Linked DNA regions of Homo sapiens: region 1 is linked to region 2. Evidence: fine-mapped expression QTL. A gene starts in region 2. The other region holds a variant in brackets. All regions are shown on one strand. Distances are between the middles of the regions.

The links. PIP is the estimated chance that this variant, and not a neighbour inherited with it, causes the effect.
Region 1: its variant is fine-mapped to the expression of RRM1 in pancreas (GTEx, PIP above 0.99).

What each region holds. Positions count from the first base shown.
Region 1 is chr11:4,843,303-4,851,852 of GRCh38, reverse strand. All of the region lies in intron 2 of MMP26 (matrix metallopeptidase 26), which reads right to left. It overlaps OR51S1 (olfactory receptor family 51 subfamily S member 1), which reads left to right and starts at 2,645. Exons shown (of 1, transcript NM_001004758.1): 1 at 2,645-3,616. The coding sequence starts at 2,645. The coding sequence ends at 3,616. The variant C/A (reference allele first, on the strand shown) is at 3,425.
Region 2 is chr11:4,090,745-4,099,213 of GRCh38, reverse strand. It overlaps RRM1 (ribonucleotide reductase catalytic subunit M1), which reads right to left and starts at 4,415. Exons shown (of 19, transcript NM_001033.5): 1 at 4,183-4,415. The coding sequence starts at 4,201. STIM1 (stromal interaction molecule 1) reads right to left here. Exons shown (of 13, transcript NM_001382567.1): 13 at 6,006-7,932. The coding sequence ends at 7,416. RefSeq lists enhancers at 4,186-4,655, 4,716-4,785 and a silencer at 7,461-7,755.

The DNA of each region.
Region 1 (8,550 bases), 750 kb before region 2:
AATGTTTTTGGTGAATGATTTCAATTCATCTTTTTATTTTTTTACCATTTTATTAGTGATTGTTCTATAAATTACAATATGCACATTACTATATAATTTACTTCAGAATAATATTAACTTAATTCCAGTAAAATTCAAAAGTTTTGTTTTAATAAATGTTTAATTCCTCCCCCTTGTTGTGCTATTATTATAATATATATACATACATATACAGACACACACATATATAATATATATAATTTACTCGACAATAGAGTATTATAATTATTTTTTCATCCAATTCAAGCCTGTTAAGGAAATTTAGGGAAAATTAACTAAAACGTGTATAGAGTCCTTCACATTTACCCATATATTGAGTATGTCCAGTACTCTTCATTTCTTCCTATAGATTCCAGTTACCATCTGGTTTTATTTTTCAGCCAGAACTCTGTGTTAAATCCTCACCTAGTCTGCTGGTGGACACATTACCCCAAAGAGGACCAGAACCTCAGGGTAGTGGAGTTGCTGGCCCTCCCTATTTCCTTGCCACCAAAATTGCCGTGCTAACTGACAGAGCTCCAAATCACGGAAGCTGCCTCACGAGTACAGGAACAAAGCTGTGGGGTTTCCTTATCTGACCACTGTTGATAGAGCTGGAGGCAGTGGAATGAAGCAGCCTTGCCAAAATGCTAGGCAACTGGCTGTTATTTTCCAAAGTTCAGTCGTTTCAATAAACAAGCTTATATCTCTAATGGATTTCCAGGGTGTCAAAATGGATCTTATTGACAGCTTGCCAGCTTTATACATGCTTTGTAGGGGAGAGGATGTGTTAGCCTCCTCACTCCATCACACTGGAAATGAATGTCTGTTTCTATTTATTGCTTTTTAAAAGTCTGTGGGATTAAGGGTTTTGTTGCATTTATCTTCCTTTTTTAGCTTGAAAGTTATATTTTATTAAAAAATTTAACATAATATTTTATAACATATGTATTTGGAATTTTTGTAATAAATGTTTAGGGTTAGCCTCCTCACTCCATCACACTGGAAATGAATGTCTGTTTCTATTTATTGCTTTTTAAAAGTCTGTGGGATTAAGGTTTTTGTTGCATTTATCTTCCTTTTTTAGCTTGAAAGTTATATTTTATTTAAAATTTTAACATAATATTTTATAACATATGTATTTGGAATTTTTGTAATAAATGTTTAGGGTTAACTTGTATCTATATCATTATCCTGAAAACAAAACCTAGCAAGTTTTTTTATTTTACTTTTCTTTAGATCCCAATTTTCGTGGTCTTTTTGTCCAGAATTTCAGTTCCAATCTTTCTGGGCATTTGGGCAGGGAAGAAAATATGACTATGGTGTGTGTCCAGTCCTTCTTGTTAAAATTATAAATAATATTTGGATATTACATGTGAGGAGAAGCTAATTCTCAGGTTTTTATTTTGGGAAATTGATTAATGGTGGCACCAACAACTGACTTAGGGAACAAACGAGTGTCTTATTGGTTTTGCTATTGACATAAATTCCTCTTCACTGTTTCCTAACTGATGACTCTGAAAGAGGCATTAAGATGTGTCTGTTAAGATCTGCTTTGGATTATTTGAATTTAAATTGCCTGGAACATCCAAGGTAAGATGAACCTAGAAGGATCTGGGAATATATATTAGTAATTCATCTGTTTGTAGACTCGAGTTGATGTCATGAGAGTAGATAAGACCACTTAGGAAAATAAAGAGGGCCAAGGAAAAATATCTCAAAAATATAAACATACACTTAGATAGAAGAAATAAGTTATAATGTTCAGTAGCCAAGTAGGGTGACTATAGTTAACAACAATGTATTGTATATTTCAAAATAGCTAGTAGACAGAACTTGAAATGTTCCAACATATAAAAATTATAATTACTCAAGGCGATGGATGTCCTAAATACCCTGACTTTATCATTTCACATTCTATGCATGTAACAAAATACCACATGCACCCCTTTAAATATGTGCAATTATTACATTTCAATAAAATAAAAATTTTAAATACCCATGTATAAATCATAGGGACACAGCAAAGTTAAGTAAAAGGCTAAATTCTGAAAGGGAGAATTTTTAAAAAAGTAAAAAATAGATCCATAGTAGCCAAAGCTCATTAAGAAATAAATCAAGCTTAGAAAAAATGAGTGCCCCTTAATTTAGAAATAAAGGAGTAATTGGGGACTTAATAAGAACAGTTAAAGTGCACCAAAATGTAAGTATCTTAAGGCAGTCTAGAAGTCAGACTGTCTGGGGTTGGGAAGAGAAAAAAATATGGATAAATGGACTGTTTCCTAAAGTGTTTGTCATAAAGGGAGGGAAAAAATAGGATAACACTACAGGGAGAGGCAAGCTAAAAAAACATGTGAAAACAATCTAGGAAAAGAAACAGAACCACAGAGCTATGAGGACAGCTATAGAAAAACCTCAAAGGCAAGGAATGAATGCTGCATATACTATTAGGATGGGTGCGTGCACAGGGAGGAAATGTGTATATGTGTACGTGTATGTGAGTGCATGAGTCAGGGAAGGGAAGATGCAGGCTATTTTGGAACGTTTCATGCAAATTTGGCACGCGATTAAGTAAACCTTTCTAATCATTTTTCAGGTTCCAGAGTTCAACGTGGAATCCTGAACTATGTCAACATTACCAACTCAGATAGCCCCCAATAGCAGCACTTCAATGGCCCCCACCTTCTTGCTGGTGGGCATGCCAGGCCTATCAGGTGCACCCTCCTGGTGGACATTGCCCCTCATTGCTGTCTACCTTCTCTCTGCACTGGGAAATGGCACCATCCTCTGGATCATTGCCCTGCAGCCCGCCCTGCACCGCCCAATGCACTTCTTCCTCTTCTTGCTTAGTGTGTCTGATATTGGATTGGTCACTGCCCTGATGCCCACACTGCTGGGCATCGCCCTTGCTGGTGCTCACACTGTCCCTGCCTCAGCCTGCCTTCTACAGATGGTTTTTATCCATGTCTTTTCTGTCATGGAGTCCTCTGTCTTGCTCGCCATGTCCATTGATCGGGCACTGGCCATCTGCCGACCTCTCCACTACCCAGCGCTCCTCACCAATGGTGTAATTAGCAAAATCAGCCTGGCCATTTCTTTTCGATGCCTGGGTCTCCATCTGCCCCTGCCATTCCTGCTGGCCTACATGCCCTACTGCCTCCCACAGGTCCTAACCCATTCTTATTGCTTGCATCCAGATGTGGCTCGTTTGGCCTGCCCAGAAGCTTGGGGTGCAGCCTACAGCCTATTTGTGGTTCTTTCAGCCATGGGTTTGGACCCCCTGCTTATTTTCTTCTCCTATGGCCTGATTGGCAAGGTGTTGCAAGGTGTGGAGTCCAGAGAGGATCGCTGGAAGGCTGGTCAAACCTGTGCTGCCCACCTCTCTGCAGTGCTCCTCTTCTATATC[C/A]CTATGATCCTCCTGGCACTGATTAACCATCCTGAGCTGCCAATCACTCAGCATACCCATACTCTTCTATCCTATGTCCATTTCCTTCTTCCTCCATTGATAAACCCTATTCTCTATAGTGTCAAGATGAAGGAGATTAGAAAGAGAATACTCAACAGGTTGCAGCCCAGGAAGGTGGGTGGTGCTCAGTGAGTAGGATGTCCCTCCGTGTTTGGTGGTACAGGGCTCCTGATACTAAAGTTTCTGTGAGAACTCAGCTCACCAAGCATGAAATGATCATTCACGTACACATAAGTGCATATATGTGCATGTAGCTTCCTGTCCCTGGAAGTATGCCTGTGTATATTGATGCAAACTTACAAGCCCCAAAGAATGAACATGATCCACCCACTGGTACATTACATATCAATGACATAGGAAGGGCCAGAGTCCAGATCTTGTCACAACTATCCAAGTGTGTGCCTGTTGTTATCTTATTGTTGTTAGTCCTGTCACTATATCTATACCTTAATACTGGATAAAGCTAGAAGAGTTAATCATCTACATAGCAAAGGAAAAATAAGACAGAAGCATTCTTCTCAACTAGATAGAAGATCTTCCATTTGTATTGTACCTCCTTAAGAAGTAAGAATTCTGACCAATCCTTAGGAATTAGATACATGAGGAAAATGCAAGTAAGTCTCTCATTTAGATTCTTCACACCAAGAGATAGGTTATTTAACTCTGATCAGGCCAGGAAAAAAAGAGGGAATATAATTTTTTTAATTCTTCATTTAGTTTTCAAAATGTTAGTATATTTTTGAATACATATGTATATTGAATGTCCTCAACACAAAGAAATGAGAAATGTTTGAGATTATAAATATGCTAATCACCCTGATCTGATCACTATACATGGTATGCACCAAAACATCACTATGACTATGCATAATTATTGTCAGTTTAAAATAAAATTTAATTTAATTTTTTAAATTTTTGCATATTTCAGAAAAAATAGAACAAATAAGAATAATCTTAAATTACATCCCCCAAACTTAACTATAATTATCTGTTTAGTGAACACTTATAATGTTTTATGTAAATGGAATCTTACAAGTGGCATTTGGAATTATCGGTCTCAATTCTTTACTTCCTAGTAGCAGCAGTATACATTCACATCCACATCAGGAGGGACAAAGTGGACGGATTGTATTTACATTCACTCTCACTTTAGACACATAATTTTCTCTGGCCATTGTGGTCCTCATGACTTGTTTTGGTCAATAGGATGTTAGTGGATGTGATAAAAGCAAGAGCTTCAGTGTGATTTTGCTGCAGGGTTTGATTTCTTGTACTGGGGTAGTGCTAACCTAGTAGGTAATTCCCCTTGAATCTGGTTTCCAGAAGGAGGTACATGGTGCAAACCTGAGCCAAATTCAGAGCCTGGAGCCAGTCCCTGGTTCCCAGAGAACTGAAGCAAAGCCAGCAAGTCAAAGCAGCCTAGATGAAGAGGGTCTCTGACAACCTACTGACCAGTGAGAATTATAACAAATGCTGTAGTTGTAAGCATCTGATATTTTGTAGTTGGTATACAGCAAAAGTTAACTAACAGAGTAATTACAGTCTTATTCTGTGAACATGGTTAATCTATTTTTTTGATGCCAATACAATTAATCACATGTGTGTTATGAGGAGCACTATTGTTGTAGCACAATAATTGACTAACTTTAATAAATATATATTTTTTATTTTTGTGGGTACACAGTAGGTTTATATATTTATGGGGTACATGAGATGTTTTGATACAGGCATGCAATGTGAAATAATCACATCATGAAGAATGGGGTATCTATCCCCTCAAGCAGTTATCCTCTGTGTTATAAACAATCCAATTACATTCCTTTAGATATCTTAAAACGTGTGATTAAGTTATTATTGACTAGAGTCACTCTATTGCACTATCAAATAGTAGGTCTTATTCATTCTTTCTATTATTTTTTATACCCATTAACCATGCTCACCTCTCCCCCAGGTTCCCACTACCCTTCCCAGCCTCTGGTAAACATCCTATTCTCTTTGTCCATGAGTACAATTGTTTTCATTTTTAGATCCCACAAATAAGTGAGAACATGCAATGTTTGTTTTTCTGTGCCTGGCATATGTCACTTAATATAATGACCTTTAATTTCATCCATACTGTTGCAAATGATAGGATCTCATTCATTTTATGGCTGAATAGTACTCCATTGTGTATATATAGCACATTTTCTTTATCTATTTGTCTGTTGATGAATGCTTAGGTTGCTTCCAAATCATAGCTATTGTGAACCATGCTGCAGCAAACATGGGAGTGCAGATACGTCTTTAATATACTGATTTCCTTTCTTTTGGGTATATAACAGCAGTGGGATAGCTGGATCATAGGGAAGCTCTAATTTTAGTTTATTGAGGAACCTCTAAACCATTCTCCAAAGTAGTTGTACTTACTTACATTCCCACCTTGGCAGCATTGTCTGTCTTTTGGATATCAGCCATTTTAACTGGAGTGAGATGAGATCTCATGATAGCTTTGATTTGAGTTTCTCTGATGATCAAGGATGTGGAGAACTTTTACAGATGCCTGTTTGTCATTGTTTTTCTTCATTTGAGAAATGTTTATGTACCTCTTTTGCCCATTATTGATTAGATTATTGGTTTTTTTCCATGTGGAGTTGTAGAGCTCCTTATATATTCTAGTTATTAATCCTTTGTCAGATGGGTAGTTTGCAAATATTTCCTTCCATTCTGTGGGTTGTCTCTTCACTTTGTGGATTGTTTTATTTGCTATGCAGAAGCTTTTTAACTTAATGTGATCCTATTTGTCCATTTTTGCTTAGGTTGCCTGTGCTTGTGGGATATTGCTCAAGAAATTTTTACCCAGATCAATGTCCTGGAGAATTTCCCCAATGTTTTTTTGTAGTAGTTTCCCCAAAGTTTTCTGTAGTAGTTTTCACTTAAATAATTTGGCTATTCTGGTTATTTTATGGTTCCATACAAATTAAGATTGTTTTTTCTATTTCTGTGAAGAATGTCATTGATATTTTCATTGGAATTGCATTAAATCTATAGAGTGCTTTGGACGGTATGGACATTTTAACAATATTTATTCTTTCAGTCCATGAACTTAGAATACTTTTCAATTTCTTGGTACCCTCTTCAACTTCTTTCATCCGTGTTTTATAGTTTTCATTGTAGATATCTTTTATTTATTTGGTTCAATTAATTTTTAGGTATTTAATTTTACATGTGGCTATTGTAAATGAGATTACTTTTTAATTTCTTTTTCTTTTTAATTTTTGATCACTGTTGGCTTATAGAAATGCTACTGATTTTTGTATGCTAATTTTGTATCCTGCAAATTTACTGAATTTGTTCCTCAGTTCTAATAATTGTTTTGGTAAAGTCTCTAGGTTTTTCCAAATATAAGATCGTATCTTCTGAAAATAAGAATAATCTGAATTTTTCCATTCCAATTTGGATGACTTTATTTCCTTTTCTTAATACTCTAGCTAGGACTTCCAATACTGTGTTGAATAATAGTGGTGACAGTGAACATCCTTCTAGTGTTTTAGATCTTAGAGTAAAGGCTTTCAGTTTTTCCTCAGTGTGATACTAGTTGTGGGTCTGTCATATCTGGCTTTTACTATTTTGAGATATGTTCCTTCTATACCCATTTTAAGGGATTTTATTATGAAGGGGTGTTGAATTTTGTCACATGCTTTTTCAGCATTAATTGAAATGATCATATGGTTTTTATCCTTCATTCTGTTGATAGAATGTATCCCATTGATTGATTTTCATATGTTGAACCATTCTTGTGTCCCAGGGATACAGCCCACTTGCTCATGATGAATTATCTTTCTAATGTTTTTTTGAATTCAGCTTGCTAGTATTTTGTTGAGGATTTTTGCATCAACATTTATCAGAGATACTGGCCTGTAGTTTTCTTTTTTTGATGAGTCTTTGGTTTTAGTATCATGGTAATACTGACCTCATAGAATGAGTGTGGAAGTATTCCTTCCTCTTCCATATTTTGGAATAGTTTGAGTAGGATTGGTATTAATTATTTAATTGGTTGGTGGAATTCAGCAGTGAATCCATCGTATCCCAGGCTTTTCTTTATGGGAAGGCTTTTCATTGTGGCTTTGATCTTGTTACTTGTTATTTGTCTGTTTATATTTTGGATTTCTTCGTGGTTCAATCTTGGTAGGGTGTATGCATCTAGGAACTTCTCCATTACTTCTAGATTTTCTAATTTATTGGCATATACTTGCTCGTGATAGCCATTATCCTTTAAATTTCTTCAGTATCAGTTGTAATGTTTCCTTTTTCATTTCAAATTTTATTTATTTGGATCATCTCTTATTCTTTCTTAGTCTGGCTAAAAGTTGGTCAATTTTGGGGAAATTTAACTTTTCAAAAAACCTTTTTGTTTTATTGATCATTTGTGTTGTTTTCTTTGTTTCAATTTTATTTATTTCTGCTCTGATCTTTATTATTTATTTTCTTCTTATAACGGTGTACACCCATATGCATGAACAAAGAGCTTATATCTGAAACTGAAATTTATATTTAAAAGGGAAGCAGAACATATGAGTTTGGGAAATTTGCAGCCTGACCATGTGGTAGGCAATAAAAACCTATTTTTCTGGGGATAAATTAGAGCCAGCTGCATAAATTTGAATAAATAAAGAGGAGCCAAACGTTAATAGCCACCACAATGGGGAAAATGTCTCCCAGGTATTTCAGACCTTCACTGCAGCCCCTCCCACTACAGGCCTGGAGGCCAAGGAGGGAGAAGTGGTTTTGTGAGCCAGGCCCAGGGCCCCATTGATCTATGCATCCTTGAGACATGGCACCCTGCGTTCCAGCCACTCCAGCTCCAGCCATTGCTAAAAGGAGCCAAGGTACAGCTCGGACTATTCCTTCAGAGGGTGCAGGTCCCAAGCCATAGCAGCTTCCATGTGGTATTGGGCCTGTGGGTGTACAGAAGGCAAGAGTTTAGGTTTGGGAGCCTCTACCTAGATTGCAGAGGATGTATGGAAAAGCCTGGATGTCCAGGCAGAAGTCTGCTGCAGGGGTGGTGCTCTCATGGAGAACTTCTACTA
Region 2 (8,469 bases):
CCAAGATCACACCACTGCACTCCAGCCTGGGCAACAGAGCAAGACTCCGTCTCAAAAAATAAAAAATAAAATTAAAAAATCCTCTAGCATACTAGTGTGATTTCCTCTTGGCTATAAACTGTCTTTCATTCTTCTCTCTTCAGGAAGACTTCCCTAATCCTGTAAGACCAAGGATGCGTGCCTTTTCCACAGGATACAAACTTTCTAATTCCCTCTGCCGAGAATGTTCAGGCCACAGATCTCACATTACTAGCTCTTAATACTATTTAGGGTTCAGCTCAAATGTTGGCTTCTCAGAGAAGCCTTTCCTGGCTACCCAATCCAAGGTTATTTTCTCATTCATCTTTATCACATGATCCTGTTTTACTATCATCTCATTAATCAGTATCTGAAATTAACTGATTATTATGTTTACTTCTTATTTCTTATATACACTTACCACTCCCACCCACACCAAGAAGTCAACTCAATGAGAAATGTAATTTAGCTTTGTTCACTGCAGAATCTCTAATGCCTACAACGGTTCCTAGCACAAAGAGGTGCTGAATAAATGCTTTATGAATAACTGAATGAATGGCCTCTACTGCCTATACTTTACCTATCAGAGTATTTATCATATTTTATCATATTACTTCTTTATTTGTCTATCTTTCTCAATTGATTGTAGGATCTTTGGAAGCTGGAACCATGTCTGCCTACTCATCACTGCAATCCCGGTGAACAGCACGGTATCCACAGAGTTGTAAAATAATATTAGCAGGCTGTGAATGGAATAGGAAGGAAGGAAGGAAGGAAGGAGGAAGGGACGGAGGGAGGGGGAGAGGGAGGGGAGGGAGGGAGGAGGGCAGGAAAGAAGGGAGGGAGAAAGGAAGGAAGGAAGCAAGGAGGGAGGGAAGGAAGGGAGGGAGGAAGAAAGGGAGGAAGGAAGGGAGGGAGGGAGGCAGGGATAGGGAAAGAATCTGGAATAAAAGAAAGATTAGAGTGCAAATGGATGCTTTCAAAGACATTATTTCGTAAACTTTTGTATCATTTTATGTGTATCCACATATATACACATGTCTGTAAAATGTTTTGTTTTTTACTGTGAGTTACAATCCAAAGTTTTGAAAATACTACACTAAATTCCAAAACAGTTTACAACTCAGTTAGCTACTTTGTCATTTACTGCAATGGTTCTCAATGTTTATTTTTTTAACCATAATCTCCTTGAGGAATGATACTCTCCCATTAGGAAAAATAGCTCAAGATAGCAGATGAAAAAAACTCATCTACTATTCTCTTCTATCTAATAATTTTCATATGGATTGTTCCTAAATCCCTAACAATTTTAAGTTCTTTGAAGATAGAGCTGCCTTCTCCATTACTGCCCTCACAGTGTTTAGCAAGACATTAGCATATTCAGTAGGTACTTCAAAGTCAACTTCCAGTTGCCCTTGTTATTAAAAATAACAAAAACTAGCCAGGCGTGGTGGCACACATCTGTAGTCCCAGCTACTGAGGAGGCTGAGGCAGGAGAATCTCTTGAACCCAGGAGGCAGACACTGCAGTGAGCTGAGATCACACCACTGCACTCCAGCCTGGATGACAGAGCAAGACCCCATCTCAAAGAAAATTAACAAAAACTGTAGGAGTTAGTCTGCTATTCCACTGACATGCCAAAAATAAGGGGGTACAAAAAAAGTCCAGAAAACCAAAAACCCTATGCATATTAAAAAACATTAAAATATAGAAACATAGAAATATAAAAAAAAAAAGAAACAAACAAATCTAAGTACATGTTGTATATTAAGTCTTGCTGAATGCTACAATGGCAGAATCTACAGCATGAACCATCTGGATCAAATTGTGCTCTATGAAGGAATGAGAAAATAAGCTCTGCTTTTTAGAGCTAGTTATAGCTAGCACTTTGTGGTTTTTTTTTTTTTTTTTTTTTTTGAGACAGAGTGTCACTCTGTCGCCTAGACTGGAGTGCAATGGCACGATTTCAGCAACCTCTGCCTCCCAGGCTCAAGCGATTCTCCTGCCTCAGCCTCCTGAGTAGCTGGGATTACAGGTGCAAACCACTACCGTCCGGCTAACTTTTGTGTTTTTAGTAGAGACGGGGTTCCACCATGTTGGCCCAGCTGGTCTCAAACTCCACACCTCAAATGATCCACCCACCTCAGCCTCCCAAAGTGCTGGGATTACAGGCGTGAGCCACCATGCCCTGCCACGCCAGGCCAAGGTAGCACTTTTTAAACGAAAGTATTTAGAAGTAGACTCTAAAAGTTCAAAATTCAACACAGGGTTGAATTTTACCCATTCTGGTCATCTAAGTCCATACATTTTCAATTCATCTTTGTTACTGACTTATCATAGACCATCCTAAACATCTCTCCCATATCTAAAGATTTAAAAAATAGATGCTCAAGCCAGGTGCGGTGGCTCCCAGCACTGTAATCCAAGCACTTTGGGAGGCTGAAGTGGGAAGAATGCTTGAGCCCAGGAGTTCAAGACAAGCCTGGGCAACATAGCGAGACTCCTTCTCTAAAAAAATACAAATAAATAATAATGTAAAAAAATAAAAATACAAAAATAGATGCTCAGCTCTCACTCTTATGAATGGATCAATAAAAGTGCACTATGTTATTTTGCTCTTTGGTCAGCTAAAATGTGAGCTAGGAAAATTCACAGAATGATGTTCTCAAGATACCAAAAACAAGAAAGGCCACTACTGTCCACCTTTCCAACTCTTGTCTGTAGTTAAACCAATCTGGACATTGGCTGTAGTTAAACCAAATCAACTACCTGCTTATTCACAGCATTCATCGTGTCCTACATTTTGATACAACTATTTTCATTCATTCTTTAAGAATCTGTTCATGTCAGGTCCTGTGCTAAACGTGAACAGAAAAGTCTCCATCTTGCTTGTATTCCCAGCACTTTGGGAAGCCAAGGAAGGGAGGATGGTTTGAGGCCAGGAATTCAAGGCCAGACTGGGAAACACAGCAAGACTCCTTTACTACCAGAAATTTTTAAAAATTAGCCACTCATGGTGGTGCATGCCTATAGTCCCAGCTACTTGAGAGGCTGAGGCAAGAGCATCGCTTGAGCCCAGGACTTCAAGGTTACAGTAAGCTATGATTACACCACTGCATTCCATCCTGGGTGACAGAGCAAGACTCTGTCTCAAACAAGTCTCCATCTTTGAAATGTTCACAGCCTAGAGGACAAAATAGAAACAACCAGTCGATTAACCAGTATTTACTAAGTGCCTACAATTTTGAAATCATTGTATTGCTTTAACAAAGGCAAGTAGGTTCAACTCAAAACTTGTTCATACGTATCTCATGCGGTTGTTAAAAGTATGTTGCTCTTGTTTTTCCAACCCGATGAAGCCTGTTCCCAAGGCAGGGACTGTCTCCTCCTACAATCTCACAAAGCCAAGCAAAGGGCTGGGCACAAAGCGGGCACTTGGCAAGTCTAATGAAAAAGAACTGTTGAGAAAGAATACGAGTTCCTGACTCTTCCCAGTCCCCATCTTGTCAGAAGATGTCTCAGCCACCCTTCTCTGATTCAGCATCTCTTCCCATGAAGGGAAAGGAACTCGAGGGTGCTGTCTGTCTGGGATCTGTTTTTTCCACGCCACACTCCTATCCTCACCCCACAAAAGAGATCAGTAAACTGACAAGTGCCTACGGAGGGTAGAGAGGCCCCCTCCTTCTTTCCTAGCTGCCCCCCGACCCTGTGCCTAAGACAGCTCACCAACCCCACGGTTTTCAAATCAAACCGTATTGTCACCTATGGGTGACTTTGGGTCAGTCGGCGACACCTCGCTCTGAGCGTCAGTTTCCTCATCTGTAATAAGCTAATCATCTCTCAGAGGCTTGCAGGGAGGAATAAAATAGTGCCTGGCAAGTGCTCGGCGTACGCAGTCACTACTCGATACGGGGTAAGTGTTATCCTTTTGAAAGGCGGCAGGATGACAAAGCCGAGGGGGCGCAGCCTGAAGGCCCGAAGGAGGTTCGGGGCAGGCTGACTGAAGACAGAAGGCCGAGCGGGCTGACAGGGCGGAAGGCCGCGGCGGGAAATGCGGGAAAGGCGGGAAGCAGCGAAGGCGGGCGGGCGGTCTGGGCATCAGCTCCGGCGGCGGCAGCCCGCATCCCCTCACCTTCCTTCTCGCCCACCTCGTCCCCCCCTCACCTCGCTTGATCACATGCATCGCAGCTAGTGGCTGAGGCTCTGAAGGATCCAAGACTGGACTGCGGCTCTAAAGCGCCGGCGGGATCGAGAAGGTGACAGAGTGGGAAGGGTTAGGTTCCAGGCGCTGCTCAGGGGAAAGAACTGGAGTTGGAGCCAGACAGCACTTTCTTCAGAGCAGAGGCGCAACAATCCAAATCCCCTTCCCGCGCCCGCCACCCGTGACGCACAAAGGGGCGCGACGGGGTTCGAATGACGTTACTCGACGCTGCGGCCCACGCCCGGGGTAGGCTTCACAGACTGACAGGCGACGTGTAGCCGCCATGTTGAGTCTGGGCAAGACCCAGAAGACTACGCCTCTCCCATGGGCCCCATTGGATATGGACATGCCCGGCGGAAATGCTGCTCTCCTGCTACCATGTTTTGTGTGGGCAAGCCGAGTTCGGGACCCTCGGGGCCCTGGCGTAGCACCTAGAGCCCGCTGGGTCAGGCGCCGCCCTCTCACCTGCGCGTCTCCGCCGGAGGAAAGGCGGTTAATTTATTTTTGAAATAACAAAACCTAACCGGCGGGAACGTTTTTCTTGCTCTGACATTTATTATAATAATACTAACACTGCCGTCCGCTGTGGGCTCCAGCCCAGGCTCCACAGCCGTGGGCAGCTTGGAGCCCCAGGGCTTTTAGATCGGCCAGAGGACTGACACTCTGGAACTGGAAGAAAACCGCGCAAGGCCGATGGCGTTTGGATTTTATCCTGACGCAAATCAGAGCCCTGAGAGAATTTTAAGCAGGGCAGGGTCAGTACCCATTTGCTTTTAGGGTTCTTCAGTGGATGGTGGCAGAGACAGGGTATTTGCCTTGTGGAGGTAGGATGGACTTGGTGACTTAGAGTGGAGAATAAGAATAGATGAGAACCGTAATATGTAAGGCTGGTGTAGAAGCTTCTGATTTGGGCTACCCAAAGCGATCTTTATGAAATTTCATCTGTGGCATCTTTTCCCTAAAGCCTTTTCGTTGGTTTCTCACTGCCCTCCAGAAGCTGCCCAGGCTCCCTGTGAAGTAATTTCAAAAATCATGGAAAGTCGTAAGTGAGCCTGTAATTGCAGCATTTTGGGAGGCTAAGGCGGGAGCATCATGTGAGGCCAGGTGTTGAGATAAGCCTGGGCAACATAGTGAGACCCCATTTCTACAAAAAATAGAAAAAGTAGGCCAGCGCGGTGCTTCACTCCTGTAATCCCAGCACTATGGGAGGCCAAGGCGGGCAGATCACGAGGTCAGGAGTTCGAGACCAGCCTAACCAACGTGGTGAAACCCCCCCGCTGCTAAAAATACAAAAAGTAGCCAGGCATGGTAGCACGCGCCTGTAATCCCAGCTACTCAGGAGGCTGAGGCAGAAGAATCGCTTGAACGCTGGAGGCAGAGGTTGCAGTGAGCCAAGATCGCGCCATTGCACCCTAGCCTAGGCAAGAGAGTGAGACGCCGTCTCAAAAAAAACAAAAAAAAAGAAAGAAAAATTAAATAGATATGTTTTTTAAAAGTCGTAAGTGAAGTTATAGGATAGATAGGGTCAAGTTTACCCAGACATAGGGTTTCCCAATTTAGCAAATAAAAATGTGTCCCAGATACTGCATGAGAGAAAATTATACTTTAAAAACTGTTTATCTGAAATTCACATTTAACTGGTCATCCTGCATTTATCTGGTAACCCTGCCCACAGAGCTTCTGGGCATGTGCATTCAAGTTTCATTTTCCCTGGGCAAAGGAAAGATTGTCTCTTTATCCCATCATGCCACAGCACAGAGAACACAATGAGAGTCAAAGCCAGCAGTGGTTAAAATCTCCTACATGCTTTATTGGACTTCAAAGAATTTTATGAAATAACACAGAAAACCCCATTTGAGGGTGTCCAGGGAGTACAAGGCAGTCTGCAGCCTAGCACCCTCCTAAGACCAGCCCCAGGTATACCCACCCCAGGCCCAAAATAGGATCCCAGGATAAAGGTATGGCAGGGAGTGGGGCAGAGGAAAAATACCTTTACAGCCATAGCAAAAACAGGTAAGGGAGAGAGTTGTCTAGAGGGTGGGAAGGGTGGGGGAAAGTGGTCACACAGCCGCCTTCACCTATACCATCTTCCTTAGCCACCCCTTCCCCAAACTGGTTGTGTCCTTTTTGAGCCTCTGGCCAAGGCTACAAAGTAACATGAAAATGGGATCTAACAAGGGGAATATGCAGCGTAGGCACTTGGGAAATTCAGATTACTTTTTTTCCTTTTAACCTGTTTGTCTTTTGGTTCAAAAAATGACAGCATCCTTGCCCAACAACTCCAGGGCTCCATAAGAGCCCTGTATCATGGCTGTGGCTCTCCTGGCCAGGGGAGCCACTTGTCCTGAGCCCTAGGAGTATTGATGCTTGGGGAGCTTTGGGGCAGCACCTCTTAGAGACAAATCCTCCTGCAGTGTGGGGGAGCAGGGGTAAGAGGGAGGCAGGTGTGGGTGGGAGTAGAGAGAAAAAGTGACTGCCTTATAACCTACAGTTCTGGCATCCACTCATGCTCCAATGAACAGATGCCTCTCCCAACCCATTCCCAAGCCTGGCCTCTCTTTAAAAGTCTCTGGTGGGTTGTTCTCTGAGAATTGGTTTCACTCCCCCATGGATCCCTGGAGGCCTGAGTGAGATTAGGATGAGGCTCCTTCTGACCCACATCAATACCAAAGAACAAACTTCAAAGATTAGGCCCTAGCCCCAGTCTGGAGCAAACAGAACCACTGTGAGTGGGGTGGAACAGATCTGAGGCACACATGTCAGAAGCTACTCGTCCTATCTTCCCTGCAACTGCTAGGGGAAGTTGGGGAGTGGTGGGAGGGAGGAGCCCGAAAGCAAGAGACAGAAACAAGAAACCAAACCTCAAAACTGGGACAGCAGAGACAGAAGCTGAACCCCAGAGGTGGAGCTGGGAGCTGAGGGAACAGCAACTAAGACATGCACTGAAGTGGAGAGGGAGTGACAGCAGCAGCCCATGGTTGGGACGGAGGCAGGGCAGGCAGGCCATGGTGGTCAGTTAATAAATAATAATGAAGGACCCAAGGATGAGGGGGCAGGTATGTACAGTGCCCAGACCCCTGGACCAGCCCTTCCCATGCCCCACTCTTGGGGCCAGTTATCTTGAAGGAAGGGAGGGAAGGAGAGACAGAACACCCAGGGAAGGACAAGCTGTCCCTTTACTGCCACCCCATCCTGCCTACTTCTTAAGAGGCTTCTTAAAGATTTTGAGGGGAAACTTCTTCCGGCCTGGGCTGGAGTCTGTTTCCTCGCCAATAGAGCCATTATCCTCCTCAGCCACAGCCTTCTTGCCAGCCAGGTGGGGAATGCGTGTGTTTCGGCTGGCTTGCAGGGCTCGGCTGTCCCCAACTGGAGATGGTGTGTCTGGGTCTGGGGAGCTGGGGCTGTGAGAACGGGAAGAATCCAAATGTGGAGAGCCACCAGGTGGGGCTGAGGGGCTCAGCTCCATCAGGCTGTGGGCCTTGTCCAGCCCATGGTTCAGCGCCAGTAATGCCTTCTTGGCCAGGGCAGGGCTGTCAGGCAGTTTCTCCACCAGAGACCCTGGGTGGACCCCCTCGATCAGCCGGTGGCTGCCATTGGAAGTCATGGCATTGAGAGCCTCGTCTGCAGCACGGCTCATCTGAGGAGGTTTGGGGGCCACACGCTGGCGGTCACTCATGTGGAGGGAGGACTCCGAATCGGAATGGGTCAAATCCCTGCAAGACATGGGGCAGAGAGGAAGAAAGGGACATATATTGGATGAGGTGATAGGGGAAAGGCGAAGAGGAGAGAGGGACAACACGAGAAGACAAGGACAGGGTAGGAAAATGGGGATAGAGCGGCAGGAGAGAGAAATAGGATGAACAGGCAGGTGGGAAGGAGAGAGGAAAGAGGAATAGACAGAAGTTGAGCAGCCATAAGTATAGGATAAGAGAGGAGGCAGGAGGAGGGAATGAGGATAGATTGGAAAAGAGACAGGAAAAGGAGAGTAGAATTGTAGAGGAAGAAAAGCAAAAGGATAAGCAGGTAGAAAGAAGGGCCAAGAGAGAAAGACAAGAAAGGGAAAAGTGATAGGGAGGGAAGAAACAGATAAGAAACAAAAACAAATGTCATCATACCATCATCTGTCTGGCAAATGGTTTTCCAATACCTGGGCCCCACCAGTGGTGAATGCTCTGGCTCTGAACTGGTGCAGCCATAGGCTTAAATTCCACAGGCGGCATCCTCAATAAAATCTCTGCCTTCTCATAGCT